2 separate regions of the Homo sapiens genome follow, and region 2 is reported to be linked to region 1. Evidence: microRNA targets listed by miRTarBase, many of them from high-throughput screens and not tested one by one. Region 1 holds a microRNA gene; the other region holds the end of a gene's coding sequence.
Evidence for each region. Region 1 holds the annotated microRNA hsa-miR-641 (AAAGACAUAGGAUAGAGUCACCUC, at 2,087-2,110, opposite strand). A microRNA usually pairs through its seed, bases 2 to 8, with sites in the 3' UTR of a target mRNA and lowers its output. Matches are read on the target gene's strand: a 7mer-m8 pairs with bases 2 to 8, a 7mer-A1 pairs with bases 2 to 7 and ends in A, and an 8mer does both.

Region 2: the mRNA of STAM is a reported target of hsa-miR-641. Seed matches in the 3' UTR shown: 7mer-m8 at 1,931-1,937 and 7mer-m8 at 1,514-1,520.

The regions. Positions count from the first base shown.
Region 1 is chr19:40,280,517-40,283,767 of GRCh38, forward strand. It overlaps MIR641 (microRNA 641), which reads right to left and starts at 2,125; the gene lies at 2,027-2,125. The region is part of intron 1 of AKT2 (AKT serine/threonine kinase 2); the gene reads right to left. RefSeq lists enhancers at 23-72, 113-232.
Region 2 is chr10:17,714,249-17,717,363 of GRCh38, reverse strand. STAM (signal transducing adaptor molecule) reads right to left here. Exons shown (of 14, transcript NM_003473.4): 14 at 540-2,821. The coding sequence ends at 2,584. Among named protein-coding and RNA genes, the nearest start is that of TMEM236, 36 kb to the left of the region's middle.

The DNA.
Region 1 (3,251 bases):
CCCTGAATCTGACCAGGCTGTTCCTGCTGAAATTCCAAACTCCTTCACAGACAGTCCACAAGGCTCCCAGTGAAAGGGCCCTGCCTGCCCCGCAGCCCCAGGACTCATCTCCTCCCTGCTCCCTCGCTCTGCCAAGCCACACAGGCCTCCGTGAGGCTTGTCCCTGCACCTCACCAAGCTCTGTCCTCCCTTCAGACCTTTGCACTGTGGTTCCCTCCACCTGGAGGGCTGTTCCTTCTCCTCCCATCCCACATGACTGCCTCACCTTGCCAAACTGGGATCAGCTCAGAGGCCCTCCCCACAGCCGCATGCATCTAAAGAAGTGCCCAGTCTGTCACCTGATTTGAATTCGCTGCCTAGCTCCTCCCCCTCTAACCGGCTCCTTGCTTATTAACCTGTTTCGGGTTGGTCTTGCTTAGCCCCACAAGGATAGGGACTTTGGCAAGTACACTGCTGTATTCCCAGTACTGATGCAACGCTGGCACATACGAGGTGTTCAGTAAATGGTGGCGGATGAGTGAAACCTTTTCCTCGGCTCCACAATACCCTTAGGATCCATCCTCACCTCTCACCCAGGCCCACAGGCCAGTGCAGCACAGCCCCTGCCAACCCCTGCAGGCACTTCTGCTGCTCCCCCTGCCCAGGCCCAGCCTTCCTGCCACTCCCAGAGCTGTGAGCTGTGGTGGGCTGGGAACCAGGGGCAGTGGCATGCACCTACGGTCCCAGCTACTCAGGAGACTGAGGCAGGAGGATCACTTGAGCCCAGGAGTTCAAGACTAGCCTGAGCAACATAGCGAGACTCCCGTTTCCACAAAAAATTTAAAAATTAGCTAGGCATGGTGGCATGCACCTGTAGTCCCAGCTACTCAAGAGGATGAGGTGGAAGGATCACTAAAGCCTAGGAGGTCAAGCCTGCAGTGAGCTGTGATCACACCACTGCACTCCAGCCTGGGTGACAGAGGGAGGCCCTGTCTCAAAAGAAAAAAAAAAACAAGCACAGAGCCTGACCTCTGAAAAGACTCCAGTGTGTCTACCTTGGAGGCGCTCAGGGCTGCAAAGCCACTGCGTGGAAGAGGAGTGGGCCCGGGAGCTGCCCTTGTCAGTTCTGACTTGATTGCATGTCTCCCCCGACCTCTGTTTCTGCATCTGTAAAACTGAGATGCTAATTTCAGCCCTGATCTCCTCCTAGTGCTCTCTGACACGGTTCTGTGAACTGGCAAAGGCCTTCAAAGTCCCGGCAGAAATACTAAGAATTACAATTGCTAAGACAGACCAACAGCTCACCATGTGTCGGGCACTGTTCTTAGTGAGGAGACATTTCCGGTAGGCTTATTGTATGCCAGAACAGTTATGAATGCTTCCCACAAATTAATCCACTCAGCCTTCACAATAATCCTATCAGGTGGGAATTATCATCATCCCCATGGCACCGATGATGAAATGAGCTCACAAGGGTTGGGGAGCCTGCTCAAGGTCACACAGCCATGGAGTGGCACGGCTGGATTTGAACCCTGTGCTCTCACTCGCTTCCATACACCTCTTTACAGAGGCTGGAAACCAGAACATTGAAGTTCTGGATCCTAGCTGGGCCAGGCTGGGGAGCTGGATCCCGGAATGCTCGAGGGGACCAAAAGTAGGGGGTGGGGGAGGCTGGATGCCTCCGTTCCATAACATAATCATGACTGCCAACCAAGACTTACACAGTACCAGGCACCATTCTAGGAGCTTCTCGTGGATTAATTCATTTAATCCTCACAACAGCCCAAGGTGGACGTCCTTCTGAGACCACTGTATGGGAGTGAACAGTGTGGTCCAAGGTCGCAGAGCTAGAACCGACTTCACCGTCCTGCTGCTAGCTAACGCAGGTCCCTGGTAGCTGTGTCACCCCCTGCATGGCTCTCTTGCTGTCTTCTTCTCCCAGCACACACCTGCCCAGGGTTAAAGGATGCCTTGCCTCCACTCTGAGGAGGGACCAAGAAATGCTGGACTGGCTGTAGGCAGAGATGCTCAGGGCAGCCTGAGGCTCAGGGGTAAGAGGAAGGAAAGACATAGGACAGTCACCTCTATAGGTAGAGGACAGAGGACAGAGGTGACTCTATCCTATGTCTTTCCTTCCTTTCACCCAGCCTGGAACCTGGTGAGCAAGGAATGCATGGCACTAGGGGCTCAGTGACCTGGGTTCAAATCCTACCCTGGCACCCATAGGGTCTGATAAGATGCGGTGGAAGGCAATTCTTCCTCTGAACTTCAATTTCGGACTCTGCAAAAAAGGACACAAATACCATATAAAGCCCAAAGCACAGGGCTGGGCAGAGTATATGCTCACAGACAAAAGCCACTCCTCCAGTTTCTCCTTGACAAGACGATCTGAGGCCAAGGTTGGCCAAGGGCTCACATCACACCTCTCCCACTTCAGCTATGAGACCTCTGGGAAATCTTTGCACTTCACAGTGAGTGAAATGATTCCTCATCTGTAAAATGGTATCACACTTCTAACTAGCTCGTAGCTCTCCATAAAATAGGCCTAACCACAGGTATGTTTTGAGACTTAAGTGAGATCACATGTACAAAAGCCCTGTCACACGCCTGGCATGGGGTGAATGCTATAAACACTGGGCATCCACTAGCTCTGGAAATGATCTGCCTCTCTGAGATGCTGTTTTCTCATCTAAAAGGGAGAGCATAACAACAGCGCCTACCGCTCTAGAATTCAAGTATTCAGCAAGTTTATCTATATGAAGCATTCCAAACAGTGTGTGGCCCACAGAATGCACTCAGTTACTGTCAGCCATCAATTTCATGATTACTGTTTTCACTGCCACTGTTAGCCCCATCAGGCAAACCCTCTAAAAGCTGGCAGGAGAGGACCAGAGGAACAAACCCCTAGTGGAGAAAGATTCTACAGAGTCGCCGCTGCCTCACAGACTGTGGGACCTTTCTCTCCAGGAACCACGAGCCACGGAAGCCAGTCAGCTTGGAAGTCACTGCTGCGGACTAGGGGCAACCATCTGCCCCCTCTGACCACATCACCAGCCCAGGTCTGCTGGGTCAATCAGGGACTGCAGCCAGTCCTCTGGGAACTCCAGACCCAGAGCAAAGGCTACAGGGCAAGCCAAGGTCATGATCTGGCCTAGGGAGCAGGGACACTGGCCACAGACCTCTGGGGCTGGCTGCTCCCAGCACCAGCCCACAGACCACAATAAGACACCAGATCCATGGGGGATCTGACTGTCCCAAGCCCTTCAGAGCAG
Region 2 (3,115 bases), not on the chromosome of region 1:
GTTATTTATTTCTCACTCTGTCTCCCAGGCTGGAATGCAGTGGCGTGATCTCGTCTCACTGCAACCTCCGTCTCCCAGGTTCAAGCAATTCTCTCGCCTCAGCCTCCTGAGTAGCTGGGATTACCAGGTGCCTGCCACCACGCCCAGCTAATTTTTGTAGTTTTGTAAAGACGGGGTTTCACCATGTTGGTCAGACTGGTCTCGAACTCCTGACCTCAAATGATCCGCCCGCCACGGCCTCCCAAAGTGCTGGGATTACAGGTGTGACCCACTGCGTCCAGCCTATGTTACAGCTAGTTCATTTTATAAATTATTCTATTCCTTCAAAATAAGGACAGCTATTAATGAAAGATTTCTTGAAAGTGCAAGACCTGCAGGTTTCAGAACTTAAAGTCATTCATGATCCTAACTGGCCCCCTCCTATTTCTACCCTCGTCTTGTCATTTGAAAGACAAGCCAGTGCTTCACTTTCATTGGATTTTTTCCCCCTGGTATTTTCATTTTTAATAATGGGAAGGCATAAACTAACACAGTAACAGTTTTAAAGTACTCATCATTTAAACCTTTATAAGGCTAGTAATGTAAAAGGTAAAGAAAAATGTATATGGGTTGTAATAAGGGTAGTTTTTTCTATTCACTGTTACTTGACTTTTATAGGGCAAAAATCATAGTAGAGACTATGTCATTGATTTTCAGCATGAAAGATATCAAAATTAAAATGGGAAAATGATACATTTAACATTGGTAAACAGGAATTTATCAAAAGACAAAGAAAAATTGCAGAAAAGTATATCAGTTAAACCATAATACTCAAATTGGAGTGGAAAAGATTATAATCCGACAGATATTTATCAAAAACTAACTTATAGTATTTAAAATGTGAAATTTGACTTCAGGGCAGGGCAACATATTTTAAACACAGGAAATCAGAACACAACACTTGAGCGAAACACTTAAGTTACCCTTAAGTAATCTTACAGGTGACTAATTTCACAGGCTCAGATTTAAAACTACGGTGCTTTAAATCTGAGTCTGTGAAATTAGTCACCCTTAAGATTACTGGCTAAAGATTTAATCTTCTCTCAAAAAGAAAATAAACAAGCTACCTGATTACAACAGTCTTAGAAAATAAAAATGAAATTTTCATTTATAGTATGAAACCTGTTACATCAATTCATTAAATATGATGTTCGACTCAACTTTTCCGTTGTTTAAATAGTGCTAAAATAATAGTATAGCCCAACCAGGGAAATCGTAAATATTTAAGATTACAATGTCAGTGGAAAACATTTTTCGCATGAATTAAAAGAAAAGCATTCATTTGAAAATATTCCCAAGTAAGAAGCCAAAATAATTCCATTAGAATTTTAAAAGGCCAGAAAGAGCAACCCAAAAATCCAGTGTGAAAGAAAACAATACCTATATAAACGTTAAGCAAAGCCAGGAATGTAGATTACTTTGAAACATCTACTTATTTCCATTTTAATGAAGAATTAAAGGATACAATGTGTTAAAGACATATTTAAAATACTAGCAAGGGATTAGACAGACGAATCAAATTTTGTTGATATCCCAAATAATTACAAGAGACTTCGAAAATGTAGTGTAATTCAGGTTTTCTTTCCAGTTTAAAAATTTCTATCCATTGCCTCTATCTTTGGTGTCACTGCCACCAATAAACACAGTATACAGCTTAGAAACCTAATTACTATCTTCAACTAGGAAAAGGTAAACCAACATCATTTCTTTAAAATGAGAAATAAAGAATGTGATCGTACTTAATTTTGTCTCATGGTCCCACAATACTCTGAAATGTCATGCCAAAATGTAAAAGTTCAAAAGGGAACATTATCATTTGCTATAATTGCACCAAAAATTTAGCTACTGTACGCTGGTGTGATGACAGCCAGTAGTATGCAGAGGCTACAGAAAGACATGTAGATATATATATATACACACACATATATATATATATCTCTTTAGCTCACAATTAGTAAAAGGTTCAGTTTAATGTGAAACTGAAACACACGACAACATAATGCGCCTTCATGTAAATACGCTAACAACTTTGTTTTCTTGAAGTTTAAAAGGATAGTATAATTACCTTAAATTTACACAAAACATTAAGAAACATGGTAGTTGTTTATGATTAAAATAAAATAGCAACGTAAATTAATTTAACACAGTGTTAAATATATTCACACGATCACCACTGTGATTCAAAATGGCCACTAATGCAGTTACATATCAATATATGTACATAACATTTGTCACAACAGTTTTTGTAAGTTTGACTTTCTGCAGACCAGGTTTACGAGACAAATAGCCTTGTATCAATTCTTTCATATTATGAAAGGAATTAAATGTTGTAAGTAGTTTCATTCCTCTGCAGGGGCGGGGGGGGAAGAACCTCTAAAAAGTCAGTGTAAATTGAGGAGAGTTCTACCTTCTTGAATATTTGAACCTGTTGACCTGGAGAGATTCCTATAAGCTGAGGATAAACACATCTTAAGATAGTAATGAATCTCATAACATTGTCAGTGGCATTTAGCAGGTATCTGCCACCAAGAGGAACACCGGGTCCTATAGCAGAGCCTTCTGAGAATATGGTTGCTGTGGCTGAGGTGGCTGTTGGCTGCCTCCGGGCTGAGGCAGAGTTGATGATGTTAAGTTATAGTTTGGCACCTGGGGCATATTAGGTCCTGCATTCTGGTACAGAGTGACATCGGCAGTTGCAGCAGCAGCAGTAGCGGCAGGAGGAGGACTATATACTGGCGCCTGGCTGGGATATGTGTTTCCTTGAACGGAACTGACCATTGTACTGTGGAGGAAGAAAAACACTCAATTACATCAATACTGATTTATAGAGCAACTACAGATAAATGGAAAAGCTATTTACTAAGCATTCATTCATATAGTCAATTCATTTAATAACCTTTTACTAAACAGCTATAATGTGCCAAACATTGTTATTTTAGGCTTTGTGATATCAGGCATTGCATTAAAAATATGTGTGTTATTTAACCATTGTGTAAAAAAAGTTGGGGGGGGTGGTTTGCGGAAATAAGTCTATACCACCATGGAGCGTCTGTTCTAGTGGTAGAAAAGGGTAACA